Linked DNA regions of Homo sapiens. The main gene of each other region encodes a partner of the protein of the gene in region 3 in a complex. Each region holds a gene or a part of one and is shown on either strand. Other genes may lie near its edges.

Region 1 (6,522 bases), on a different chromosome or scaffold from region 3:
GGCTATTTGGGAGTTCCAGTTGTTTCTCATCGTCACCAGTACTTTTTATTTTTTTCATACCGGAGGGTGTTGTGACATTTCATTTGCCAGATGACTCATGAATTTGACAACCATTTCATGTGTTTTTTGGCTATTTTGTAAGCTAACATTTAATGACTGCTTTCTATGTGCCATTCCCAGCCTCCCTGCTTTATAATTTATGTCTTTTTTTTCTTTTTTTTGAGACAGGGTTTTGCTCTGTTGCTTAGGCTGAAGTGCAGTGGTGCAATCATGGCTCACTGCAGCCTTGACTTCCTAGGTGAAAGTGATCCTCCTACCTCAGCCTCCTGAGTAGCTGGGACTACAGGCTCATGCCACCATGCCTGGCTCTTTGTTTTTTTTTTTTTTTAGAGATGGGGTCTTATTATGTTGCCCAGGCTGGTCTCAAACTCCTGGGATCAAGTGATCCTCCTGCCTCAGCCTCCCTAAATGTTGGGATTACAGGTGTGAGCCACCACACCTGGCCATAAGTCTTATTTAATGCAACAATGCTACCCCATTCCACAGATGGGTAAGTGGTATCTGGTAAGAGGAGGAGCTGGGATTCAGTCCTCAAATTCTGGGGCATGCATCTTAGCCTTCCCCATCCCACTTGGTGAGGTGGGCCACCCTAGTCACATTGAGATATAACCAGTTGTTTGCAGATGGCTGTGGGACCATCTGCAGAGGTGCTGTGAAGACCTGACATTCCAACGGAGAGAAGGACAGGAAGCAAACGACAGGCCAAGGGGAGGAAGGGGGTGGTCCCAGGCTATAGATAACAGAAGAAGAGAAAGGCTGCTGCTGGAGCTTGTGAAGCGCAAGGCACAAATGGCAAATTAAGAGTGTGTTTATTTACAGGAAAATCATGAGAAGCAGGAACAAACAGGGCTGTAGGGGAGGTGGGCTGGCAGTGAGGCCAGGTGTCTGTGTAAACAGGCATTGGCTGGATAGAGGGAACACAGGAGCCAGGCTGCGGGAAGAGGTTTCCTTTCTCTGGCAGCTCTGGCTGAGGCCCCAGGAGGGACATCAAGCGAATATTTTCTGGAGCTCCCCCAGGCGTGGGTCCTTGTAGAGCTTTTCCTCCAGAGCCAGGTACTTCAGTGGGGCCAGTTCCTTGTGTCTGAAGTCAGAGAGGCAAGGAAAGAGGGTGAGGGGTTACAAAGCTGGTGGTCCAGCCTCCCAGTGGGTTCTCTCCACCTGCCCTGCCTGCTCACCGATTGAGGCGCTGCTCCAGGATGCGGATGCGGAACATGGCCTGAGAGCAGTAACTCAGGTACAGGTCTTCATCCTCGGGTGTCAGCGTCACCTGGTTCTCCTGGTACCACTGCTGCTTCTTTTGCAGCTCCTGGGTCTCCTGTGGTCATAGGGCAGACAGAGAAGGAGGACTGACAAGGCTGACCTTCACCCAGGCTGCAGGCTGCAATCCCATGGGTCACTAGACAGCACCATGACGGTTGGCCCCAGTGTCCCCACTCACACAAGCCACCTATCCATACCTGCCACAGAGGCAGGGGCCACAAAATATCTTGGGTGGGAGCCAGTGGGGTCATGTTTATAGGGATGTCATGTCCATGAGATCAGAACGGGGCAAGACTGAGAGAGCCATGTAGCTCTGGACAAGTTACTGGCATTTTCAGAACCTGCAATTTCTTGTCTACAAAAGGAGGGTCATTGTACTCCCCCCTCCCCTTGTAGAGCTCCTTGTGAAGATTAAGTGACATAATCTTAGTAGTGCACGGGAACTACATGGTGTGTGCCTGACCAACAAAAATGGGTCAAGGACTAGGAGTTGTTACAGTGTACCATCTCTCTGTCTACCCAGCCATCTGCCCATCTATTCCTCTGCCCATCCCTCCACCCATCCCTGCCCATCCATCCGTCCATCCGTCCTTCCACTCATCCATCCAACCGTCCATCTATCCACTCGCCCATCCAACCGTCCATCTATCCACTCGCCCATCCATCCATCCATCCATCCACCCACCCACCCATCCACCCACCCACTCATCCATCCACCCACCTACTCACTCACTCATCCACCCATCCATTCATCCATCCATCCATCCACCCATCCATCCATTCATCCATCCACTCACCCACTCTTCCATCCACCCACCTACTCATCCATCCATCCATCCATCCACCCACCCACCCACTCATCCATCCACCCACCCGCTCACTCACTCATCCACCCACCCACTCACCCATCCATCCATCATCCATCCATCCATCCATCCGTCCATCCGTCCTTCCACTCATCCATCCAACTGTCCATCTATCCACTCGCCCATCCAACCGTCCATCTATCCACTCGCCCATCCATCCATCCATCCACCCACCCACCCATCCACCCACCCACTCATCCATCCACCCACCTACTCACTCACTCATCCACCCATCCATTCATCCATCCATCCATCCACCCATCCATCCATTCGTCCATCCACCCACCCACTCGTCCATCCACCCACCTACTCACTCATCCATCCATCCACCCATCCACCCACCCACCCACTCATCCATCCACCCACCTGCTCACTCACTCATCCACCCACCCACTCACCCATCCATCCATCATCCATCCATCCATCCATCCATCCACCCACCCACCCATCCATTCATCCATCCACCCACCCACCCCATCCACCCACTCATCCATCCACCCACCCACTCACTCACCCATCCATCCATCCACCCACCCACTCATCCATCCACCCACCCACTCATCCATCCACCCACCCACTCACTCACCCATCCATCCATCCATCCACCCACCCACTCATCCATCCACCCACCCACTCATCCATCCACCCACCCACTCACTCATCCACCCACCCATCCATCCATCTATCCACCCATCCATCCATTCATCCATCCACCCGCCCACTCATCCATCCACTCACCCATTCATCCATCTGCCCACTCACTCACTCACTCATCCACCCATCCATCCATCCACCCACTCATCCATCCATCCACCCACTCACTCATCCATTCATCCATCCACCCATCCATCCATTCACCCATCTACCCACCCACTCATCTATCCACCCACCCACCCACTCATCCATTCATCCATCCACCCATCCATCCATTCATCCATCTACCCACCCACTCATCCATTCATCCATCCACCCATCCATCCATTCATCCATCTACCCACCCACTCATCCATCCACCCACTCATCCATCCACCTACCCACTCATCCATCCACTCACTCACTCACCCACCCACCCATCCATCCACCCACCTATCCATACCTATACCCATACACCTATCTATCTACTCACCCATCCATTCATCCTCCCATCCATCTATCCATCCATTTATCCACCCATCCACCCACCCATCTGTTCATGCACCCACCCATCCCTCTATCTACCCATCAATCCACCCACCCATCTATCTATTCATCCATCTACCCATGCATTCATCCACCCATCTATCCATCCATCCATCCACCCACCCACCCACCCACCTATCCATACCTACATCCATCCATCCCCCTATCGATTCATCTATCCGATAAACAAGTGTGAGGAGGAACAACTCAGTCATTTGGAAACCCCAAGCATTGACATATTCATCCCGTCATCAGGCCCTCACAAGCCTGTGAGGTAGTGGGCGGACAGCCGTGGGCCCATTTCCTGGATGCAGATGCTGAGATCCCCCCCTCCCCAACAAAGGCCCTGGTGGCACCTTCTCAAAGCGGGCCTGGATGAGGTTGGCCTTGTTGATGAGCCGCTGCTTGAAGTCGCTGAGGCACTCATCCTTGAGGCGCACCGCCTGCCAGCATGTTAGTTTCTCTCCTGGCGGGAGCTGGGCCAGGAATGGGGCCAGGTAGTCCAGCTGGGTCTCCACCTGCCGCAGGTGCTCTTCGTGCATCATGCGCTCCTGTAAAGGTGAGGGGCAGATAGCTGGATCAGCAGGAACTACAGAGACCTCTCCACCAGCTCTGCATCAGCAGTGTGCCAGCACAAAGCCAGACCTCACAGCCAGGTTCCAGTGCATGGCGCCTCCAAGATGGGCCTTAGAAGGGCCCACATGCTGGTCTCTGGACCTGTGTTTACTGGTGACAGCCAACTCTTTTTTTCTTACATGAATTTGTATCTCACTACCTGAGCTTTGGTTTCCTTCTCTGAGGATCTGAGGATCTGACAGGATCATGTCTGTAAAGCACGCAGCCTGATGCCTGACAATCCATAGTAGATGCTTATTCAGTCAACGGTAGTGGTTATTAACGATGTTAGTTAAAAACTGCCAGTAACTCCCTTCACTTTTCTTTTCCACCCTGGGGCCTGTGTCCTCCATCTGCAGACAGGGGGCAGTGAAGTTGGAGACGTGGGGGCTGACACCCTCCCCTGGGATCTGAGAACAGTCATCTGATGCCCATCCTGCCTCACGACCCCCAAACTAAAATCTCAACTTGGTTGGTGAAAGGGATTCAGAAGCCGGCCCTGAAAACCAGGCGGGGCCTTGCAACCTGAAGGTGTAACCTGAATGCCCTCCCTGTGCTGGAGAGCAGGAGAGCTCAGGCCTGGAGCCAGAGGTAGCTCACTGGGGCCACTGGCCCAGGGTGCAACCTCAGTGGGAGCCCTGAGTAGAGGTGGGCACATAATTTTAATTCTTTTCCCAACCACAGGCCTTGGCTTGGCTACAGCCCCTGGGGATGGGGGGAAACCTTGCCCAAATCCCAAGTACTCTTTGGGATGAACCATAGAAATGGTCAGTTCAGCAGCAAGGATGACCGCATGGTATCAATAACCGTATCCCCCACAGAGGGTTTCTCAGCAGAATCCCTCATGGTCCCCACCACCCTGGAGACCAGGGGGGTCTAGGAAAAGCTGGGGCCTGGAGAAGGGATTGGGACTGACCATGGCCTCCCGATATTCCTTGCTCTTCTCATTCCGCTTGGTGTCATAGATGGAGATGGTCAGTGTGTGCGCCGCCTCCTCTTCCTCTCGAAGCTTCAGAATCTCCAGCACCTGAAATGAGAAGTGTTGGAGGGCGTGATGGAGACACCCCTCCTCCACTCCTGTAACCCCAGCACTTTGGGAAGCCAAGGAGGGCAGATTGCATGAATTCAGGAGTTTGAGACCAGCCTGGGCAAAATGGAAAAACCCCATCTGTTAAAAAACAAAAACAAAAACAAGAAATTAGCCAGGCATGGTGGTGTGCGCTAGTGGTCCCAGTTACCTGGGAGGATGAGGTGGGAGGACCACCTGAGCCCGGGATGTAGAGCCATAATTGCGCCACTGCATTCCAGCCTGGGTTATAGAGCGAGACCCTATCTCAAAAACAAAGATACCGCCCACCTGCTCACTCTCCCACAGGACCCTACCTCCAGCTCTGACTCCCAGACCTGATGTCTGGACAGCTTCTCCTCCCTCTTCAGGTGCATCATGGCCTCGTACTGGTAGAGCAGCTTCTTGGTGTGCTCCATGGGCTCCACCTGGGACAACAACCACCTTAGTAACACAGAGAGGCTGCCATGATCGGGGCATAGGACCACCTGGGTTCAAATCTACCCCTGCCACTTTCCAGCTGTGTGACCTCGAGCAAGTTGCTAAACCTCTCTGAGCCTTAATTTTCTCACTTATAAAAATACAGATAATAATAAAAGAGGAACTGAAGACTCAGAAAAGCTGGGGACTGTGCCGGGAGAGTGAGCGTTTGACTAGGAAAGCTAGCCCCTCAGAGGTAGTGAGACTCTTCCCCTCCCACAGAGCCTCCCTAGGATCTGAGGTTTGCCCTGACCAGGACTGCAGAGTCGTCTTAGCCTGCTGAGTTCGCTTTTTTGGTGGAAAAGGAAGATTTTCAGAGGAGCTCAAAGAGAAGGGTCCCCAGATGGGAACTTTTGGTTTTCCCAAAGAGCAAAGATGAATTTCCTCGCCGGGATTCACCAGCGCCCATCCTGGTTCTCCCAAGTGGCTGGAATAAGACAGAGAGCCCCGGTTCCTCCTGCAGCCGACCCCTGCCCGCCGTGGCCCCCAGGCCCACCTCGAAGCTGATGCACATGTCGGGCGTCATGATGATCTTGTTGCCTTTGCTGTCCACCTCGGTGCGCCGCAGGAACTCGCGCTTGGAGGCCGTGATGTGGTCCTCACGGCAGTGGTAGCGCAGCTGGATGCGCTCCTCCGCGACCAGAAACACGCGCTCTGCCACGTCCTCCTCCGCGGGCTTCGCTGGGTTGCGGAAGAACCGCTCTGTGATTTTCTGGGAGGCCAGAACATGCAAAGGATGAGCAAAGGATGAGCGTGTGAGAGGAGATTTCTGTGCATGCCCGCAGGCAGGAGCAACGAACGTTCAGGACACTGGAGTCTGGGGTCGTTTGGCGATTCACGTGGAATAGCCCCTCCTAGCCAGACAATGGATTTCGTGGGTTCTCAGGGCCAGGCCACTCCACTCCCATATGGTGCTGGGCCCCTCCTCAGCTCCTTCAAGACTCTGCTTGCCTACCTCAAGAGATGGGGAGCTCACCACCTCTCCAGGCAGCCTAC
Region 2 (7,022 bases), on a different chromosome or scaffold from region 3:
CGTGTGGTGGCTCACGCCTGTAATCCCAGCACTTTGGGAGGGTGAGGTGGGTGGATCGCCTGAGGTCAGGAGTTCGAGACCAGCCTGGCCAACAGAGTGAAACCCTGTCTCTATCAGAAATACCAAACATTAGCCGGGCGTGGTGGCAGGCGCCTGTAATCCCAGCTACTCGGGAGGCCGAGGCAGGAGTATCACTTGAACCCAGGAGGTGGAGGTTGCAGTGAGCCGAGATCGTGCCATTGTACTCCAGCCTGGGCAACAAGAGCGAAACTCCATCTCAAAAATAAATAAATAAATAAATAAATAAATAAATAAATAAATAACTGCCTTGGTCTCTAAATTTTGCTGATAAATTTGAGCTCTCGGTTCTCTAGGAAGAGACACCAGCTTGGACACTGTCAGGAACCACATTCAAATGGAAGAAAATGTGACAGAAAACAAGGCTCCAACCCAGGCACGTCTCTGCTGTCCTCTTCCCAATAATGTCCACCTCAAAACCCACAGGGAGAAGGAAGGGCCCCTTGTCTAACACAGCAGTCCTCAGGATCTCACTGACTACCTTGCAGGTGCCCTTCCCTTAGGTGCCAAGAGTTGGCACAGCCTAGCAATGCACGTCGTGCAGGACCTGAGGTGTCTCTGAAGGTGGGGCTAGATCTGACAGACAGATGGGATATTTCTGAGAAGCGAATCCCACTACAACGGTTTGTGTTCAAAAATTTCAATTAGGTTAGAGAACAAAACAGCACATATAACTGCGGCTCAAGATAAGATGCCCTGGCCCCGCACACCACAGACAAAGCCTTGAGGGGCCCATGCTGCAGGGATTGGTCCTTGGCCAGAACTTTGAAACTGAACAGAGGCAAGGAGCGTCTTTAAGGGACAGAGACAGGACCGAGCACCCCTACCACTCACTGCGAATCTTGGAAGTGCCCACGAAATGAGATGTTTTCCACCCAGTCACTTCTGCAAAGGTTTAAACCTGTCAGATCTGGTGCAGGTGAGGATGGAAACGGCCCCTCCGCACCCTGGCAGGTGTGTGACTCAGAGCAGCCCTCTGGACAGATGATCAGGGTCCTCAGAACAGAACCCTCAGACTCAACAATCCCACTGCTAGGAACTGGCTTTCCTAAGAAGCAATCTCACACAAGTGCACAAAGACAAATTTAAAAGGATTGAGGCAGCAATGCTTATAGCAGCAGAGCATTAGAAACAGACGGGAGTCGGCTAAATGATCAAACGTTCACAAAACGCAGCACCAAGCAGCTGTGAAAAGGATGAGACCGCTTCCTATGTGCAGCCTGATACACTGTGAGATTAAAAAGCAAATTGTGCTTATGGCCTGATCCCGTGTTCGTAACATACAAAGTCACATCCACACGAGAGCATGCAGGAAACCTGGAAGGGAGCCCATAAAACTCGCCAGTGTGAGGACCAGCACTGAGCAGCCGGAGACTCATCTTCACTTACACTTAAGAGCCTCCCTCATGTGCTTTCAGAGGTGAGCTCTCGAGGGGACGAAAGTCATGTGTGATCCGTTCCCCATCAAGACCCCAGGCCTTCTGCAGAATATGCATGCAGAACAGGCCACAGGTTTTTGCCTCTTAGAAGCTGCGGAATGAGTTACAGGGAACAGGGCCTCCAGCTTCAGAACCCAGAAACCTGGCCAAGGCATCTGAAGCTGGTCCAGGGGCCACAAGGAGAGCCCCGTCCCTGGCTAGCAGGGGTGCCATCCCCACTGCAGGGCCAGCCTAGTGCCCGCTCACCTTGGTGAACTTGGTGAACCGTTGCTCTAACACCCACCGCCAACTGCAGGGCCAGCGTGGTGCCACTCACCTTGGTGAATCGCTGCTCTAACACTTCATGCTCCCACTGCAGGTCTTTCAGCTCTTTCTCCCTGACTTTCAAACGGGCTTTTGTGCACTGGAGGAAAAACAGGGAGTAGGGGACAGAAAGTATTCAAGATTCACAGTCATCCAAGTAACACGGGCTCCTGGGAGATGGCAAGGCCAAAAATAATCGCCAGAAAGACCTGGTTCCAGGACACAAGCAGCTGAGTCTCACCAAGGCCGGCCGGTAGCACGTGGTGAAGATGAGGGCCTTGTCTCCAAAACACCCCCAGACTTTACTTTCCCCAGGAGAACACGAGGCAGAGAAAGGAGAAATGCAGGCCTCCCCGTCTCCCTTCCTGCCCTAAGGGCCAAGCCCCTCCCTGTGATGCTCCTCCCTCCTGAGCCTAGGCAAGCTCATGCCAAGGAGGGAGAGGAATCCAGCGGGAAACTCACAAGCAGGATCTGCTTGTCCCTCTCGTAGTTTGCGAGCTGTTTCTGCATCTCGCTCATCTCCTCCCGAGCCTTCTGGAGAGGGTCTGCCAGGCGCTTGTTCTGCCCAGACACCTCTGCCATCTCCCTCTCCAGGTGGTCCTCCTTCTTCCGCATGTCCTCCATCTGCTCCTGCAGGCACAAGCACAGGCCCGGCAGGGGCTCAGCAGGCAGAACCAAAGGGGCTGTGGCCTGCATGGTGAGAGCTGGGTGCTCTCCTGCCCATCACCAGCTGCTGCCAGCCTCAGGCATGCTGGCACCTAGACGTCTTCTATGTATAAACAGTATTTCTGCAGCTTCAACTTATTCTGAGTTTTCTGGGAATGCAGCTTCCATGCAGACTGAAGGACTATACTTTGTTCAAGATTCCACCAAGGGCCGTTGTCTACTGTAGAAAATCCTGTCACTGCCAGCATGCAGTGACGATGACACCTATCCACCTGTCGCAGGCAGTGACTATGACACCTATCCACTCCAGCCACATCACGGCCCTCACTGCGGTTCCATCTGAGCTTTTACAAACCAGAACACACTTCATTACTTCCCCCTCTGCACTACGGTGAGGGCAATATCCTGACTGCTTTTAACAATAGGTAGAGATAGGTTACGTTATTTAGGAATTTCAGTTAAGGATATGAGAGGGGCATTGTCAAACAATCTTATAAAAAGTACTGGGTGTGTTGGGGTGGAGAGCTGGGGTCTGGATCCCCAGGACTCTGCAGCCCACATTCTAGGACAGGCAGAGTGTGCCTCCCCAGCCCAGCCCACGCACAGCACCTTGAGGGAGTTGATGAGGGCCAGGTTGTTGAGGGTGATGTCGTTGTAGTAGTTCTTAATGTCGGTGAAGGCCTCCTCGTGGCGCTGCATCAGCGTGTGGATCTGGCCATTCTTCCTCTCCTCCACTTCGTGGAGCTCAGTCTTTCTCCGCAAGTCGAGTTCGTCCCTCAGCATCTTCATCTTCTTATCATACTTGGCCTCAATTTCTGAAAGGCAGCAGCAAACAGCAGCTTAGCAGAGGAAGACGTGGTGCCCCTACGGCTACAGAACATGGAGCCTGTAAACGGGCCCAAAACGCCCACTGTGGTCAGAACAGCCTTGCAGGCAAAAGCTCTGCAAGAGAAGAACAAAGGGGTTTAGACTGAGTTTTTCTGCTGATGCTCACACTCAGCACACACACCACTGTCGGCCTGCCTTTGCCAGTGACAGGCATTGCTAATCGCTCCCTGCACTGGGGGTGCCAACAGCTGAATGTCAGCTGACCCCAGTGAGCAGTAACCGAGGCCTGTGTGGCCACCCAGCCACAATCAGCCTTTATTAGTAAAACACAGAGACTTCTGAAATTGGAGCCTTCTCAGACCAGGAGCCATGGAGAAGACTATTTTAAGAAGGCTGCCCACGGCACTGAATAGCTACCACCTGCTGATAACTACTGATTTTAGCTAGGAGTGGGAATGTGTGTGGTAATCACAGCCTCCCAAACTCACATGGAAATAGGTTGTTCTGGGATTCTGAGTGGGTCCACTGGCCTTGGAAACTTCCATGTTCTTTCTCTTGCATGCCTTGGCTGTTTTAATCCAGTTTTTGCTCCCTGAGTTAACAAGCTCTGGAGGTAAATTCCTCTCTGATGGGGCGGGGGTGTCTCTGGCACCTACACAATGAGCACACGGGAAACTGACCTCGAACTTGCCTCTCAAAATCATTCCGCATCCTGGTGATCTCCTCGGTGTGTTTCTGCACAGGGAGAAGCGGCCATTACTACACAGCCGGACACAGAGGGAAGCCCGCTCCCTTCAGGCTGACCCTGTTCCTCATGGTTTTGGTCACCTCCATATTCCCTAACTCACCTCCCTCAACTAAAGTCACCTCTAAGCTTGAGAGAGAACATGAACAGACGTCGTGAGCACTGAACCCGCTTGGTTCCATCGCCAAACCATCCCACAGCCTGAAGAGCAGCAGCCACATCCACACAGAGCTGTGGGATCTTTCCAGGTGCCGTGTGTAGCTTCCAACCTGCTGCACTGCTGCCTGAAGCAGCATATTAAAAGGATTCATTCCTGTCATCCCAGCACGCTGGAGGCCAAGGCAGGAGGATCACTTGAGGTCAAGAGTTCAAGGGCAGCCTAAGCAACATAGCAAGATCTTCTACAGAAAATTTAAAGATTGCCGGGCACAGTGGCTCACGCCTGTAATCCCAGCACTTTGGGAGGCCGAGCTGGACAGACCACCTGAGGTCGGGAGTTTAAGACCAGCCTGACCAACATGGAGAAACCCCGTCTCTACTAAAAATACAAAATTAGCCGGGCATGGTGGCACATGCCTGTAATCCCAGCTAGTCGAGAGGCTGAGGCAGGAGAATAGCTTGAACCCGGGAGGCAGAGGTTGTGGTGAACTGAGATTGTGCCACTGCACTCCAGCCTGGGCAACAAGAGCAAAACTCCATCTCAAAAAAAAAAAAAAAAAAAAAAAAAAAAGATTAGGTGGGTGTGGTGGCTCATATCTATAGTTCCAGCTACTTGGGAGGCTAAGGCAGAAGGATCACTTGAGACTAGAAGTTCGAGGCTGCAGTGAGCTATGATTGTACCATTGCACTGCAGCCCGGGAGACAGAGTGAGACCTCATCTCTAAAAATAAATAAATATATAGTTTTAATGAACAATTATTATATATTTAAATAAACATTATATATTTAAAATTTGCATAAAAAAATAAATTATTTTTAAAGCAGTAATTTTTCTTTTTTTTGAGACAGACTCTCACACTGTCGCCCAGGCTGGAGTGCAGTGGCACAATCTCGGCTCACCGCAACCTCCGTCTCCCAGGTTCAAGTGATTCTTCTGCCTCAGCGTCCCGAGTAGCTGGGATTATAGGTGTGCGCCACCACGCCCGGCTAATTTTTGTATTTTTAGTAGAGACGGGGTTTCACCACGTTGGTCAGGCTGGTCTCAAACTCCTGACCTCGTGATACACCCTCCTCGGCCTCCCAAAGTGCTGGGATTACAGGCGTGAGCCACCGCACCCGGCCTAAAGCCATATTTTTACCCAACAGGAAACTCTGATTATGTAACAATATCATATCCAGGACCTGGGTTAAGACCAGCTAATTCTGGAGGGCTCAAGACTTCGGCACTCTCAGGCTTTGCTGCGAAGTCAGCAACGTCACCAAGTTTCTTCCAGATTCAGTGGAGGCTGGACTGCTTCCAGGCGTGAGGCAAATGTGTTCAGAAAGTCTCCTCAACCCAGCAGCCAGGAAGAACCTTAGTGAGACACATCTCTCCTCTGCCCAAGTTCTCAGAGGGCAACAGACTCCACCAGGGTCAAAGTCCCAGTCCCCACCACGGCTTTCGAGGCGGACGAGCTCTGACCCGTCTCCAGTCCCCACCACGGCTTTCGAGGCGGACAAGCTCTGACCCTCTCCCACAGTCTCCTCCTGGTCACTCTGAGCTTTCCCACTGGCCCATCCCGTCTCCCAGCCGGTCAACTGCTTGTACAAAACCGCACCCCACCTCTCCCCACTTCGATCCTTCTATGGCACTCTTCCCCACCAGATACTCTGTTGTATCTGGCACGTTTATTTTGTCTTCCAACTCACCTGTTGTCTCTCCTTTCTAGACCAACAGCCCCAGTCGGGCAGGCGTTTTGTCAGAGATCAGATCAGGACCTAGCAGCTAATGGACACTCAGCAAATGATCTCTTTCCTTTTTGTTTTGTCTCACTCTGTCACCTAGGCTGGAATGCAGTGGCACAATCCTAGCTCACCACAGCCTTGACTTCCTGAGCTCAAGGGATCCTCCCGCCTCAGCCTCCCAAGTAGCTGAAACTATCGGCATGTGCCACTACACCAGCTAATGTTTTCTTTTAAATTTTTTAGACATGGGGTTCAACTATTTCACCCAAGCTAGTCTCAAACTATTGGCCTCAACCACTTCTCCCACCTGACCCTCCCAAGTGCTGGGATTTTGGGTGTGAGCCACTGAACCAGGTGCACAGATGAATTTTAATGGTGCCCTGGAAACCCCCAGCCTCAAAAGTAAAAATCAGACCAGCTTGTGTGACAAACTGTCACAGTGCCCAGGAGTCAACACACTGGATATTTTAATGGTTGGTTTGCATTCTACTAAATGCATATGATGCTATTCCCTAGGAAAAGTCTCTGGGTGTCAGGTGTCAGCAGCACATGAAAGATCCTAAGCTGGATTTTTTCTCTTCGGTGACGTCAATTTTTTGCTCAGGTCTGAGACAGAATTGTGTACTTGGTCCCAAAATGGGGTTTGTTTGGATGCATGCTTTAAAAAATTTTTTTTCAACAAATTGCAAAAATGCAGAAAGTCTTATGCAGAAATATGAATTCCCAGTTGCTGTTGAATAAACAGGAGTTCATGCAGCACTAGGCTTGCCGTCCCAACAACCTGTCAGCCTCCAGGTGCCCCCGCCACACCTACCAGCCGCAGGTTCTTCACCACCACCTCACTGGCCAGCTCCTGCTCCTTGAGCTCCACCTTCAGTGCCCGCATGTCCTTGCGCAGCACACTCTCCTGTATGCGGTGCTCTTTCTGTGCCAGCTTCATGACTACAGTGCCCTCAGCCTTCATCTCTGTCAGGTTGTTCTGGTGCTCATATAGCAGGTGCTTCACTTTCTGCTTGTACACCTGCAGGGCAATGGGAGTACCATCTGCTCACCTGCACCACACCTCCTCACCTTTCCGT
Region 3 (7,985 bases):
ATTTTATAAAGAAGCAGAAAAACAGTGATGGCTGGGCCCAGTGGCTCATGCCTGTAATCTCAGCACTTTAGGAGGCTGAGGTAGGATTGCTTGAGGTCAGGAGTTCAAGACCAGTCAGGACAACATAGGGAGACTCCATCTTTACAAAAAATAAAAAATTAGCTGGCCATGGTTAATCCTGGTTAGCACACCTGTAGTCCCAGCTACTTGGGAGGCTGAAGTGGGAGAATGACTTGAGTCTGGGAGGTCAAGGCTGCAGTGAGCCCACCACTGCACTCCAGCTTGGGCAACAGAGCGAGACTTTGTCTCAAACAAAGAAACAAACAAACAAACAGACAGACAAAACAGTGACTCTGAAATCAGAACTAGATTCCTAACCAGCTCTCTTATTTACTGGCTGTGAGCTTTAACCAAGCCATTTATGTGAAGATGTGGTATTTTTATCTGTGAAACGTGAATACTAATACAATACAAAGTACCTCATGCAGCTTAATAAAGAAGAACTACTTTTATTATTATAACTGTAATGAAACTATGTCCTTATTCTGTTGTATTCTGATAAGGATTTCCTTTTGAGATCATAAGCTCAGGGACTCATCTATGAGGAGGGGTGGTGTCTTCCATGAAGGGCTGGATATTTTTGATGATGATCATTCAGGGAAGGCATGTACCCTCAGTTAGGAAACTGAAATTAGACCAGAGAACTACCTCCCTCCCTCTCACTGTCCTGCATCTACAGCTCAAGGAATCCAGATACCCTTACAGGCCCTCCTGAATAGCAAGGTGGAAACAAGGAAGGGGCCACAAGCTGAAGATGATAAGCTGTACGGTGTAAACCAGATCGCATGTCATACAGGCAGCAGATTACAGCAGTGAAGGGTAGAAACCCTGAAGTCAGAACATCTCCCGTTGTGCATTTGAAGCATTAGAAAAGCAAACTCTCCTAGTGGAAGGTGAATTTCAGGACAGAAGGTGGGGTTTGGCGTCTGAGTGCTTCTGCCCAGGTGGAATGGGGCTTATTTCAGTAGATTTCCTTGCAAGTCCTTTAAACTTCTCGAAGCTTTCAGTTACATCTATTGCGCCTCGTGAAAACTCTAAAATAGGAAGTTTGGACATTGTTACTTCTATTTTTATGAGTTAATAAGTTTTAAAGAGATTACATGACTCGCCCAGGATCATGAGATTAGTAAATGGCAATGCCCAAGGAAAATCCAGTTTTTTTAAAAAAAAATTATTCCCAGTCCAGATTTCAATTATCTCCATATTAGGAAAGTAAACAGGGCATGAAGGATTTTTAAACTATCATTTTGCATTATTCCCACCACTTACCCTTTCCACTTCACTCACATCTTAGGTAACTGAGTCAACTGCATTCAAAAGAAACATTTTTGGGGGGAGAGGGGAGGGATAGCATTAGGAGATATACCGAATGTAAACGACGAGTTAATGGGTCCAGCACACCAACATGGCACATATATACATACGTAACAAACCTGCACGTTGTGCACATGTATCCTAGAACTTAAAGTATGATTAAAAAAAAGTAAAAATAAGTAAATAAATAAATTCCTTTAAACAAAAAGAAACATTTTCTGTGTTCCTCACGGACACATCACTGATGGCTGTCTGAACAGATTCAACTCACTATAAATTCAAGCATGCAAAAGGACATAACCTGTACATATCCACCTGGCTCCATAGAGTAATTAAGCAAATAAGTGTCATTGTCTAAAACTATGTGCTTGCTTTTCTGATTTAGCCCTAAGTTTATATATCCATGAGTGGGATCAAAAACGATTTTCCGATTCTAAATTTCTGAAAATCACGATGAGATGTTTAAGTGAAAAAATGCTTTGGCAGCATACAATATTACAAGTTACTCAAGTATTACAAGTTAACAAGTTACTCAAGCTATAGCTCAGAAGCCATATACATATATATGTGTATATATGTAGAGTATATATGTATATATACACATATATGTAGAGTATACATATACGTAGATGTATATATACTCTACATATATGTATACGTATACATATACGTATATGTATACGTATATGTATATATACATCTATCTATCTATCTATCTATATATATATATATATTTTTTAAGATGGAGTCTTGCTCTGTCACCCAGGCTGGAGTGCAATGCCATGATCTTGGCTCACTGCAACCTCTGCCTCCTGGGTTCAAGTGATTCTTCTGCCTCAGCCTCCTGAGTAGCTAGGACTACAGGCTTGCAGCACTATGCCCACCTAATGTTTGTACTTTTAGTAGAGACGGGGTTACACCATATTGGCCAGGTTGGTCTCGAACTCCTGGCCTCGTGATCTGCCCACCTCGGCCTCCCAAAGTGCTGGGTATACAGGCATGAGCCACCGTGCCCGGCCGCAAAATATATTCTGAGGAATAAAAATGATTGTAGTTAGTTTTCCACAGTCCAAAGCAAGCTAATAATATTTAAAGAGTTAAAAGTGTAATATAATCATCGGTCATGTTTCTACAACCAAAGAGAGTTGAAAGGAGTCAAATATCAGCATAATGCAGATAATGTACTCACTGGCATTGTGGGCCTTTATTATTTGGATAATCATTTTCACCTTGTGGAGACTTTTCCAGAATTATATACTTTTATGCCTAATCAGCAAATTAGGCAGTTGAAAAGTATGTATGAAGCAGCTAATATGTGCCCCAATTAGGCTAGGTAGTGTGGGTATATAAAAAGGGTTTATAAAGGGGGAGGCTCCTATTCAAACCTTAGTGGGGTCAGGAGATGCGGAAGTTAATTAACATATATTAAATATTTTTTTACTCACCCACACCTAGAGAAACAGTACTGTTTTAAATGTGCTGTAGGAGTTCAGAGAAATACTGATTAATGTGGTTTGGAATAAATTAAATAATAAAAAGCTTTGCTGAATACAGTTAGTTTAAAAAATATAAAAATATAGGGGGATTTGCAGAGAAATCTGTTCAACTCTTAAAATAATTTTTAATTTATATATGTTTATATAAGAATTCCATTTTATTAACATGAAATACTAGTACCTTTTTTTGGGGATGGAGTCTTGCTCTGTCATCTGGGCTGGAGTGCAGTGGCGGATCTCGGCTCACTGCAACCTCTGCCTCCTGGGTTCAAGCGATTCTTCTGTCTCAGCCTCCCGAGTAGCTGGGATTACAGGCGTGAGCCACCACATTCGGCTAATTTTTCTATTTTTAGTAGAGATGGGGTTTTACCATGTTGGCCAGGTGGGTCTTTAACTCATGACCTGAAGTGATCCACCCGCTTCAGCCTCCCAAAGTGCTGAGATTATGCGTGAGCCACCGCGCCTGGCCCAGTACTTTTACTGATGAAAAATGTAATGTAAAAGGAAGGTCTGTCTTACATACAATAAGTGCTGAATCTGGGTCTTTTTTAAAAAAAGTCATTGAGAAGACTTACTCCTTTCTTAAGTTTTAAGACATTTATTATTGCAAACAGAAAAATTGTACTAGATACCGGGGATATATAAACGAATAATGCCGTTTCTGTCTTCAAGATCTTACTGTTTGGTAGGTGGAAATAAAGTGAACGAACGAAGGCACTGCAAATCAATGTGGGAGGCTCTATAAGCATGGGGCCACAGAGGAAAAGGCTGAGAGGGAAAGCTTCAATGACTAGGTGACTTCAAAAAGGTCATCCTGGCCAGGCACAGTGGCTCACACCTGTAATCCCAGAACTTTGGGAGGGCCAGGCAGGCGGCAGATCGCTTGAGCTCAGGAGTTTGAGAGCAGCCTGGGCAACATGGGGAAACTCTGTCTCTACAAAAAATACAAAAACTAGCCAGACATGGTGGCGCGCGCCGCTCCTCCCAGCTACTTGGGAGGTTGCGGTGGGAGGGTCACTTGAGACCGGGAGGCGGAAGTTGCAGTGAGCAGAGATCACACCACTGCACTCCATCCTGGACGACAGAGCGAGACCCTGTCTCGAAAAACAAAAGACAAAAACAAAAACAAAGGTCATCCTGCAGGACAACCAGGAGGGCACAAATGTGTGTCTGTGGGAAGCTGAAATGTTGGCGGGGGAAAAAAGCAGGGAAAGGCATTCCAGAAAAAGGAAACTGTAAACAGCACACGAAAAAGCATAGTGAATGAATAGGAAGCCTGAGACCAAACTTAGGGTTTCCTACACTTATTTCAAAGCCCTTCATTATCTATATGGAAAGGGGGAGTCTTTAAACACAAATATTTAGATCATATTGACTGAGATTTAGATATAAATGAATGCTAATAATTACTTTTCGTTATTTTGGGGTGTTAAACATTTACTGTACAAGATTGTATTCGTTTTAAGTATCTTCTAACATGAGCCATTTTGTAATGATTCAGTTGTTTATATTCAATTTCAAGTAGAATGCTGATCACAGCGCCAAATGGGTATCTTCTACAGAAAAAGTTATTTTAATAAAGAAAAATATAGTCAGTTTTAGGATTTCCTGAGAGATTATAGAAACAATAAAAGCATTAAAACTGTTAAGTCATTAAATACGAGTACCTTGTATTTTGAAGGCTCTTAAAATTTAGTTTATAAATTGCTTTTACATAACATATGCACTGAAATACCACTTAAGATTAGTTTTGAAAATAGGTGTTCGTTTCAACCACATCATTAGGTATTTTATTCAAAGCTCTTTATAAAAAGAGCTTTACTATGTTCCAGTATAGTAAACTTATCCAGAAAATAAGACAAAAATTTAACTTCATGCTATAGCTGCAAAGTTTTCGGAAAGCGGGATTTAAAACTTCCATTGTAACTTTAACTAGCGGTCATGTCAAATTTCACAACTAAGAACATTTTAACGCATGTAATACTGAGCACAACATGGGCACGTTTTTGTTGCTATGAGAACCTTCTATTTTGTATTAGACATTGCAGCCTTGACGACGCAATGTTTGTGCTATTTTGCGCATGTTTTCCTGCAGCTATTCCTCTCCTCTAGCAATAGTCGAATGGCTCTGGTTTCCTCTTGCGCCCGGCCCAGTTTTTCCGTTTTAGCTTCGGTTGTCATAGGCTGTGCTGTCGCTTTCTCTGGGAAAGGACGGTGAAGACTGGACGGGAGAAACCGGGAGGGCAGGCGCGGCCGTTCTGCAGCAGCCGGGCCGCTTCCCGGCGGGAGGCGGGCTGCGAATGGGAAGCGGGAGGAGGAGGCCGGGCCGCGGGCTGGTTCTATCACCCCCTTGGGAGCCCAGCTCTTCACCTAGCTCTCCGGCGCTTTTCAAAATCTGCAGTTAACAACAAAAATCGAGCAACGCCACGTCGCACAAACAGGACAGGAGGGGGCGAGGGGTGTGTGCGCGCGCGTGCTGTCCCCAAATGGATGAGAAATAAGGGAAAGGAGGGGTTGGGGACCGTGTGATGAAGCAACATGCTAGGCCCGGGACAAGTCCGGCTCCGGCCTCGGGTCTGGAGGGACAAGGCCGGGGGCCGGGTGGCAGACGGGGCCTCTGGTCTTCCCCCAGCGCGAGGGTCGTGGCGCGAAACGGGGACAGGGCGCGCGCTCGGAGCCTCCTCCCCGCCCCGCCCCGCCCAAGGGTCTTCCTCCCCCGGGATTCAGAGCGGCCCCTCCTCCAGGCCAGGCTCGCCGCGGGGCGCTGAGCAGGCCGGGACACCGCGGCCGAGGTTATCGTTAGGCATCTCCCAGGCGACCGGCTCCGCAGCAAGATGGCGGACGAGAAGGACAGGGAAGGTAAGGTAGGGGAGCCGGGGAGCCGCTGCCCTCGCCGCCCGCCGCGACCCCGGGCTGCACGGGGAAGCGCCGGGTGGGGTGGGCCCTCGTCCATCTGGAGTTCCCACCCGCAGGGAAAGGGCGGCCTGAGGAGGGGGCCACCCGGCAGCAGCAGTCGCCCTGCCCCCGTCCCCGTAGCCCGCCCGGCCCGCCGCTCCGCCCCGCCCCGCCCCGCCTCTCTCCCCCGCCCCGCCCCGCCTCTCTCCCCTCTTCCCTCCCTCTTCTCTCTCCCCTCCTCCCGCCTTCTTCTTTCTCCTCCCGCCCTCTTCACCCTCTTCCCCTCCTCCCGCCCCGTCCTCCTTCCCCCTCCCTCGGAGGCCGGGCCTTGCATCCTGCGCGGGCTGCGCCGGAGGCGCCGGCAGGGGGTGCTGATAATGGCGTCGTTGTTCACGGTCGCGGGGAAGCCGCCGCCGCCTCCACACTCTCGCCTGGGGTCTCGGTGCCGCAGGCGCCACGCCCGTAGCTGTCCAGGCTGTGGGCCCCGGGGGGTGGCCTGGGTGAGGAGGAGTTCTGGCCGCCTGAATCTGACGGGATCCTCTGTTTGCGCCGAAACCCCGCGCTGGCGCAGCCTGATGGCGTTCGCGGCCACCATTTTGCCTCCTTAATGAGGACGCAGGAGGACGGTCTGGAGGTCACAGCCGCTGCCTCCGAGCTTCCCGGTCCTCCGAAATGCCTGCCCCGCCGCCGGCTAGCGCCGCGCAATTGGCCTAGTGTCTTGTCTTAAAAAAAAAAAAAGACACACACCCAAACAGCAATTTTAATAACGACGAAAAACCAAAACCTGGTTGAGATCTTGGAACCGCTGTGCGCCGGCCGGGCCTCTCCCAGGGGACCACCCAGCCCCGCGCGGTGGCCGCCTGCAGAGGCGGGACTGCGCTTCGAGGCTTAAGGTCGCCAGTTCGGAGGCATCGATGTGTTGTCTGTGCGGAGAAGCCAAAAAGTGATTACGTTTATTTGCAAGACCGTTCATGTTGTTTTCAGTTCATGGTATGATTAAAACCCGATCCTTTGTTACCATGCCCTTAGGTACTAAAAAATAATTGTGTTTGATAGTTGGCAGTCACCCAAAAATATCCAAAAAGCCATGAAACAGTAAAGGTAAACAAGTAGGAAGTGAAAATAATATTCGTCCTTTGTTTTCTTTCTGGAGTGCTCAAAACACCCTCTCAAACCATTTTTCTCAGCATAGAACCAAGTGTGGTCAGGTTAACAGCTAATATTTACAAGGGAAGAAACGAACCCTGAGATATTTAGTCACTTGTTCCGGTGATCACAGAAAATCGGCGAAGAAACACATGAAACTGCCAACGATCTCTCTATTGATAACAAGGATACCGTGATTTTTATGTAATATTAATCTGAGAAGCCAGGATTATTTTGTAGGTATTAGCTTTACGAAGATGCCCTTACATACAAAGAAAAGGATAATTTTAAAACTTTCCCAGAAAAATGGATGGCTTATTTTTGTTCTTTACCAAAAAAAAAAAAAAAAAAGCCATTAGGAGATAAACTAGCAAGGTAATTATGGATATTTATTTTCTTAAAAAAGACTTGGTTAGGTCAGCATGAGAAAAAACGCACTGGAGTATGGTACAAATACAGTATTTCTCGTTTTTTAAAAACTGAGAGCTTTCCTGATTTTTCAGCTTTTGAACAATTTTTTTCCATTTAAAGTAAATTCAGAGAAACAATTTTGTCGATAACTCATAGAAGTAATGACTGTTAAAAGCTGGATGCCATTCATTCAGAATACATATATTCAATGCCATTATGTAGATAAGGCATTCTACTTAGAACTTTGAAAGATACGAAAATGAAAGACATTGTCTTTGCTTCCAAGGAAGGTGAGATGAGTAAGGGAGATGAGAAATTTACAAATGGGAGGAAATAGTTAACTGGGCTGAGTAGTCTGGGTGCCAACCACTGTGCTAGGTGTGTATCCTTGTAGTCCGTGGACAGCAGCCTGGACATCACTGGCTGCCACCGACCTAATAATGAATCAGTCTTCATTTTAACATGTTTGTAGGTGATTTGTATGTACATTAACTTTCGAGAAGGCCGGGCGCGGTGGCTCACGCCTGCAATCCCAGCACTTTGGGAGGCTGAGGCGGGCGGATCACGAGGTCAAGAGATCGAGACCATCCTGGCCAACATGGTGAACCCCGTCTCTACTAAAAATACAAAAATTAGCTGGGCGTGGTGGCACGCCCTGTAGTC
Region 4 (7,022 bases), on a different chromosome or scaffold from region 3:
GATGGGCGCAGTGGCTCACGCCTGTAATCACAGCACTTTGGGAGGCCGAGGCGGGCGGATCACAAGTTCAAGAGATCGAGACCATCCTGGCCAATGTGGTGAAACCCTGTCTCTGCTAAAGATACAAAAAATTGGCTGGGCGTGGTGGTGCACGTCTGTAGTCCCAGCTACTTGGGAGGCTGAGGCAGGAGAATCGCTTGAACCAGGGAGGCAGAGGTTGCAGTGAGCCAAGATCGCGCCACTGCAATCCAGGTGACAGAGCGAGACTCCATCTCAAAAAAAAAAAAAAAAAGAATATGCTCATTAAAAGAACTGAAATAATACAGAAGTGAAAGAAGTTTTCAAAATTGGTGCTGTGGGCCAGGCGTGGTGGCTCACGCCTGTAATCCCAGCACTTTGGGAGGCCAAGGTAGGCAGATCAGGAGGTGAGGAGGTGGAGACCATCCTGGCTAACACAGTGAAACCCTGTCTCTCCTAAAAACACAAAAAATTAGCTGGGCGTGGTGGCGGGCACCTGTAGTCCCAGCTACTCGGGAGGCTGAGGCAGGAGAATGGCGTGAACCCAGGAGGCGGAGCTTTCAGTGAGCCGAGATTGCGCCACTGAACTCCAGCCTGGGCGACAGAGCGAGACTCCATCTCAAAAAAAAAAAAAAAGAGATGGAGACCATCCTGGCCAACATGGTGAAACCCTGTCTCTACTAAAAATACAAAAATTAGTTGGGCGTGGTGACACGCGCTTGTAATCCCAGCTACTCTGGAGGCTGAGGCAGGAGAATCGCTTGAACCCAGGAGGCAGAGGTTGCAGTGAGCCTAGATTACGCCACTGAACTCCAGCCTGGATGACAGAGTGAGACTGTTTAAAAAAAAAAAAAAATTTGGTCCTGTGGCTGGGCATGGTGGCACACACCTGTAATCCCAGCACTTTGGGAGGCCAAGGCCGGTGGATTGCTTGAGACCAGGAGTTTGAGACCAGCCTGGCCAACATGGAAAAACACTGTCTCTATAATAAAAATACAAAAATTAGCTGGTGTCCCTGTAGTCCCAGCTACTCAGGAGGCTGAGGCAGCAGAATCACTTGAACCCAGGAGGCAGAGATGCAGTGAGCCAAGATCATGCCACTGCACTGCAGCCTGGGTGACAAAGCAAGACTCTGTCTCTAAATAAATAAATAAATAAAAAAAAATAAAAATCGGTGCTGAGGCATTGTGCCTCAGAGGAGCCTGAGCCAGCCAGTCTGCTGCATCCCTGCCACGTCCCCCACTGTGTCCCCTGCCAGGACCGACTGACCTGAGCCGGGCTGCCATGGACCACACGCCCCTGCTGTGGGAGTGGCTGCCCACCTACAACCTAGGGGCCGGCCAGGGCAACTATGCATGCAGCTTGCATGGCTACAGCGTCATCCCTGCTGCCCATCCCTTGCTGCTGCCCGCCCTCCCCTTACCTCATCACAGGGATACCCAACCACCACCCCAGGGTCTACAATGACCACAGCTGGACTATCACTTGGTACCCTGCCAATGCCATCGCCATCATGAGAGGCTGTCCCGTCTGCAGGGATAGGGTGCTGGAGGACTGCTTCACCTTCCTGGGAATCCTCCTGGCCATCATCCTGTTCCCCTTTGGGTTCATCTGCTGTTTTTCCTGGAGGAAGCAAAGATGCCCCAACTGCAGAGCAGCCTTTGCTTAAAGGGAACTTACACCTGGCTTTTCTACACCCAGCTCTCTTTTTCTAATGTACAATAGTTTTATTTGATTAAGCTTCAGGACTGTTTTGTAAAGTGAGGTGCGACAGATGTGGCACGCGGGAGCCAGGGTTTCCTGGAGCGTGGAGAGGCAGCGCTGCTGCTCCTGAGGTTAATGAGAACTCAGTAAAGCACTGCTTTTATTTTTTGCAGTCTTCAATTTGAGAAAGGTGAAATATAATGTTTTCAATAAATGAGATTCATGCCAAAAAAATAAAAAATACAAATACAAATTAGTGGCTAGGTGCGGTGGCTCACACGTGTAATCCCAGCACTTTGGGAGGCCGAGGTGGGCAGATCACGAGGTCAAGAGATCGAGACCATCTTGGCCAACATGGTGAAACCCCGTCTCTACTAAAAATACAGAAATTCACTGGGTGTGGTGGTGTACACCTGTAGTCCCAGCTACTCTGGAGGCTGAGGCAAGAGAATCACTTGAACCCGGGAGGTGAAGGTTGCAGTGAGCCTAGATCGTGCCACTGCACTCTAGCCTGGCGACAGAGTGAGACTCCATCTCAAAAAAAAAAAAAAAAAAATGCTGGGCGCAGTGGCTCATACCTATAATCCTAGCACTTTGGGAGCCTGAGGCAGGCAGATTGCCTGAGCTCAGGAGTTCGAAACCAGCCTGGGCAACATGGTGAAACCCCATCTCTACTAAAATAAAAAAAATTAGCCAGGCGTGGCCGCATATGCCTGTAGTTCCAGCTACTTGGGAGGCTGAGGCAGGAGAATTGCTTGAACTCAGGAGGCAGAGGTTGCAGTGAGCTGAGATCGCACTACTGCACTCTAGCACTCCAGCCTGGGCTGGGCGGCAGAGCGAGACTCCGTCTCTACAAAAAAAAAAACAACAACAATAAAACAAAACAAACAAACAAACAAAAAAAAAACATACAGTCCAGCTGCCGTTTCAATATTCATTCAGAGGGGCAGAGCCTGCCTGTGAGGTTGTGAAAGTCCCAGTGGGAAAGTGGGGAACCCCTCCTAGCTCCCCTCCCTGCACAAAGTTCTGGGGAGGACAGGGTTCTCTGACCCAGGTCCAGAGGGGCACACCGCCCTTCCCCTAGAGCTGGATTGCTGCCCTGCACCTCTCCTGGGTTCCCAGGGCTGGGTGGGACTGCCCTTCCCTTAGAGCTGGATTGCTGCCTTGCACCTATCCTGGGTTCCCAGGGCTGGGTGGGACTGCCCTTCCCCTAGAGCCGGATTGCTGCGTAGTGCCTCTCCTGGGTTCCCAGGGCTGGGTGGGACTGGTGCCTGTTCTTCAGCTCCCTGTTTGTGGCCAGATTTCCCAGAATGATACTGGCCACAATTCCCACCTGTGCTTCCAGGGTGGGGCCAGTTCTGCCCCAGCCTCCCGGCCACCTCCCAACCCTGGGTTGGATTTTCCAGGTGCCTTTTCTGGCCCTGATCTGACAGCCCCCCAGCAGTAGCACTCCCCCTGTGGCTCCTGCACACCGGGTGCTCTGCCACACACGCCAGCATGCCGGCTTTTTCCCAGGTGTCAGCAGTTCAGGAGGAAAAGCCAAAACAACACAACAAATCAGGATGTACTTGGCAGTTAGCTCTAAATGAGTTACCAGCATGACAGGACTGCCAAAAAAAGCCGATTTAATCTTCAACAAAGACACTAAATCTGCCCCTGTGGCCACCACCTCGGCCAGGCCTGTGGTCATCACTCACTGGAGTACAGCAGTGGCCATCTTACTAGATCCTTGCCTCGGCCCCTGGCCTCCACGGTCTATCCTCACGCAGCCAGCAGGGTCCTGTGAAATCCTAAGTCCCATCCTGTCCCACTTCTGCTCAGGACCCTCCCGGGGTCCCCACTTCACTCACTGTAAGAGCCAAACACCTTCCACTGTCTCCAAGCTGACACCATGACCTCCCCGACCTGTCTCTCCACAGTGGCTTCCTCAGCAGAGATGATAAGGCGGGGTCCAGCCTGCCCCAGGCCCTTTGCACTGGCTGCTCCACTTTCCCTGGTGGATCTGCACAGCAGCTCTCTCCCTTGCCTACCTCAAGTTGTTGCTAAATTGTTACCTTCTTGGTGAAGCCCCTGGCCACTCTATAAAACACTGTACTCCACCCCCAACTTCCCTTTTCTCCTCTCCTTCCTTTTTTCCTCCACACCACATATTACGTTTAGCAAATAGTATTATTTTCCTTCTTCATTTTATTTAATTGTCCCCCATCAAGTTGAATGTCAGCTCCATGAGGACAAGGCTTTTGTCTTTTTTTGCTCATAGTTGAATCCCTAGTGCTCAGAACAGTACCTGGCATGTAACAGGCAGGTGTTCAATACTGGCTGCATGAACCTCAGGTTGGGGAGGGGAAACAGAGGGCAAGCGGTCAGCTGCAAAAGCCCCCTCCTGCCGCACCTGTTCTGTGCCCCTTTACCCCTCCCGGGGCTGTGGCTCAGGGCCCTCCCTGATTGGGTGGTCAGCCCTGGGAGCCTATGGGCTTCGTGGGGCTGTGCCTGGGCCATGCCTGACTTGCCCACTGTCGTGTCCCTGGCTCTGGCAGCAGGGCTGGACTGAGGCAGGGTCTCAATACCTCCTTGTTGTTGACTGGATGCCGGCCAGCCTAGGGGCCCCAAGACAGAGCACGAATGTGAATCAGACCAGGTCACTCTGCTGTGGCCTTGCCTGCACATGATACAAAGGGGGGTCTCAGGATCCCTGCCCACCTCTCTCACTGCCCTCGTACTGCCTCTGCCTTCACTTACTGTGCCTGGCTTGCTGTGTGAGCCAGGCACTGTGCACGTGCTGTCTCACCTTGTCCCCCCACCCAATGCTCGAGACAGGGATGACAGCCATCCCATTCCACAGACGGGACATTGAAGCAGTGAGGGTCCGCCTGGTCCTGAGCCACATCTTCTCACTCCTGATGTGCCTCCCTGCCTCAAGGGCCTGTGCTCCTCCTGCTACCAGCCTGTCTTTGGTCACCCCTTCCCTGAAGCTGCCATCCCAGTGCCCGCTCTCATTCTCCCACACTTCCTACCCTCTGCTTCTGGCTACGTGGGACTTCCTAGGCTCTGCCTGCCAGGGACCCCCACTCCAAGGACACCCATGTGGAGTTGTGTGATGGAAACAGCATAGTCTTGGGGGCTCACTTAGATTTGGCGTGGGACAATTTTATCTTGTTTTCTATTCTTATTCAGAATCCGGAGCGTCGTGGATATTCAAATGATGAAGACACTAAGTATGACGCTTTACAAACATCTGTGCTGCTCCTATGCCTTGTAACCCAGGTAGGCCCTAATGCTGATGTGGGAACCTCGACCGTGGACTTTGCATGGAATCCTGGGGCTTGAAGATGGAGCAGAGAAAGCCAGGGAGGGCCCACCCTGGCCACCACCCCTGAACCTTGGATACATACTCCGAAAGTCCAGCTGCAGGGACAGGACATCCTTGAAGAGGATGCCCTCCTGCTTGGCCAGCTGCCCGGCCTCCTCCTGGGGGCCCTGGTCCCCGACGGCCAGCTTGAGCATGTCATCGTCCATCACCCTCGGCTCCATCGAGTTGCACGGCTGGTTCATCTTCCCCCACGTTTTCCCTAAAAAACACCGCATTCTTCCTTCACGGCCTGCTTCTTTCTCTGTTTGAGGGCAGGGTCTGGCTGAGGTTTCCCCCTGTAGTGTCTTGTGGCCACTGGCACTCTGAGGAATGCCCCACGCCCAGCCCTGGGTCTGCTGCATCTCGGGGTTTGTATACTTACGCCAAGGCTGCTCCAGGGCTTCCTGGCAACCACCTGGGCCTGTCCACAGGGTTTCATCCCTTGACCCTACAGCCACAGCTGGGACCCTCGCTGGACCCACTGGACTGGTGTCCACACTGGTCTCCCTAGCCTGTGATCTTGACTCATCTTATGACTGTGGCCCTGTGTCAGGCCTCTGACTTTGTATGCCCATCCTCACTTGGGCTTGTGGGTACCAACCACTGACTGTGCTCCCTGGGCAGCCCCAGCCAGGCCTGTCAGCCTGCAGCTCCTCTTCCTTGAGCACCTCACCCCCTCCAGGCCGTCATGTGTGTATGCCCCACACCACACCACAAGCTTCTCCTGGTGCAGAGGGAGCCCCTGACCCAAGCTGCCCATTCACGTCCTCCCCGTGGGAGATGTGAAGTTGAGGCTGTGGAATGAGAGTGCCCATCGGAGCTGGCTGCTTGAGCTGGGGAGGAATAGGGAGTGTGGGCTGGCTGGGTACATAGTTAAGCAGAGAGCAAGAGGGGGAGGAGGCAGATGCACAGAGAAAAGCAGAGATGGGAACCTGGGAATCAGAAAACAAAAGACAAAGGACAGACAGATCGACACAGACAGAGGCTGCCTCCTTCTTGCTGGCTTTCCAGTCCCTAATGTCCCTAGGTCCAGGCCTCATGAGAGTTTCCTGTTTCTCACATGAAATCCTCTTCTACTTAAGCTAGCTCCAGTAGGTTATTTTTTAATTTAATTAATTTATTTTTTTTGAGACAGAGTCTCGCTCTGTCGCCCAGGCTGGGGCACAATGGCGCGGTCTCAGCTCACTGCAACGCCCGGATTCAAGCGATTCTCCTGCCTCAGCCTCCTGAGTAACTAGGATTTCAGGTGTCCACCACTACGCCTGGCTAATTTTTTGTATTTTTAGTAGAAACGGGGTTTCACCATGTTGGCCAGGCTGGTCTCAAACTCCTGACCTCAGGTGATCCACCTGCCTCCGCTTCCCAAAGTGCTGGGATTACAGGCATGAGCCACCGTGCCCAGCCTCCAGTAGATTCTGTTGCTAATGGTCCAGAGGGATTTGACTGAGACACCACAGCACAGGGGGGATCTGTAGATTTGGTCAGTCACAATGTGAGGCTGACTCCAGGCTGCCGTTCGTGGCTGGACCACATTCTCATCCTTATCAACCCTCTTGGTGAGGACATCCAGGAGGGATATTTTCCCCCACTTTCCACCCCTGATTCTTGCCTCCCTGCTGGCCCTACTTCCTATCTTTGTCTACATGCCTTCCCAGCATCTGGGCCTCCCTGAACCTCCTGTCCTTCTGCCCTGCTGGTCCCTGATGCTAGGCAGCCCCTGTGCTCTGTTTTTCATTCCACTGGGCACTGCTGGAGAAACTCCTGGTGCAGGGCTGATGGTGTCTGCTGAAAAGCCAGGTTGGGCCATACAATCCTGTTACCTGGTCTTAGAGACTTCCCTCTAAGACTGCCCTCCTCTTGCCTCCCTGACCATCCACTTGGATGCAGCTTCTGCAAATATGCATCCTCTGCCCTGAACTGTCCCTCATCAAATGTCCCAATGAGCTCTTGT

Evidence for each region.
Region 1: DRC8 (region 3) and DRC7 share a complex: the UniProt entries of both Homo sapiens proteins name them as parts of the nexin-dynein regulatory complex.
Region 2: DRC8 (region 3) and DRC4 share a complex: the UniProt entries of both Homo sapiens proteins name them as parts of the nexin-dynein regulatory complex.
Region 4: DRC8 (region 3) and DRC3 share a complex: the UniProt entries of both Homo sapiens proteins name them as parts of the nexin-dynein regulatory complex.

Annotation. Positions count from the first base shown.
Region 1 is NC_000016.10:57,725,784-57,732,305, reverse strand, and holds the end of DRC7 (dynein regulatory complex subunit 7), read right to left. Parts: intron 6,239-6,522; coding exon 6,023-6,238; intron 5,475-6,022; coding exon 5,364-5,474; intron 5,008-5,363; coding exon 4,897-5,007; intron 3,917-4,896; coding exon 3,722-3,916; intron 1,376-3,721; coding exon 1,236-1,375; intron 1,142-1,235; coding exon 1,048-1,141; 3' UTR 501-1,047; downstream 1-500. UniProt on the Homo sapiens protein: Component of the nexin-dynein regulatory complex (N-DRC) a key regulator of ciliary/flagellar motility which maintains the alignment and integrity of the distal axoneme and regulates microtubule sliding in motile axonemes.
Region 2 is NC_000016.10:90,032,660-90,039,681, reverse strand, and holds part of DRC4 (dynein regulatory complex subunit 4), read right to left. Parts: intron 6,965-7,022; coding exon 6,758-6,964; intron 4,050-6,757; coding exon 3,995-4,049; intron 3,302-3,994; coding exon 3,096-3,301; intron 2,451-3,095; coding exon 2,283-2,450; intron 1,921-2,282; coding exon 1,834-1,920; intron 1-1,833. UniProt on the Homo sapiens protein: Component of the nexin-dynein regulatory complex (N-DRC), a key regulator of ciliary/flagellar motility which maintains the alignment and integrity of the distal axoneme and regulates microtubule sliding in motile axonemes.
Region 3 is NC_000001.11:244,964,715-244,972,699, forward strand, and holds the start of DRC8 (dynein regulatory complex protein 8), read left to right. Parts: upstream 1-4,967; 5' UTR 4,968-5,271; coding exon of another isoform or gene 5,272-5,538; intron 5,539-5,540; coding exon of another isoform or gene 5,541-5,610; intron 5,611-5,611; coding exon of another isoform or gene 5,612-5,704; coding exon 5,705-5,729; coding exon of another isoform or gene 5,730-5,823; exon of another isoform or gene 5,824-5,856; intron 5,857-6,097; exon of another isoform or gene 6,098-6,155; intron 6,156-7,794; exon of another isoform or gene 7,795-7,985. UniProt on the Homo sapiens protein: Component of the nexin-dynein regulatory complex (N-DRC), a key regulator of ciliary/flagellar motility which maintains the alignment and integrity of the distal axoneme and regulates microtubule sliding in motile axonemes.
Region 4 is NC_000017.11:17,975,851-17,982,872, reverse strand, and holds part of DRC3 (dynein regulatory complex subunit 3), read right to left. Parts: intron 5,318-7,022; exon of another isoform or gene 5,292-5,317; 5' UTR 5,275-5,291; coding exon 5,115-5,274; exon of another isoform or gene 4,897-5,114; intron 1,885-4,896; exon of another isoform or gene 1,642-1,884; coding exon of another isoform or gene 1,582-1,641; exon of another isoform or gene 1,213-1,581; intron 1-1,212. UniProt on the Homo sapiens protein: Component of the nexin-dynein regulatory complex (N-DRC) a key regulator of ciliary/flagellar motility which maintains the alignment and integrity of the distal axoneme and regulates microtubule sliding in motile axonemes.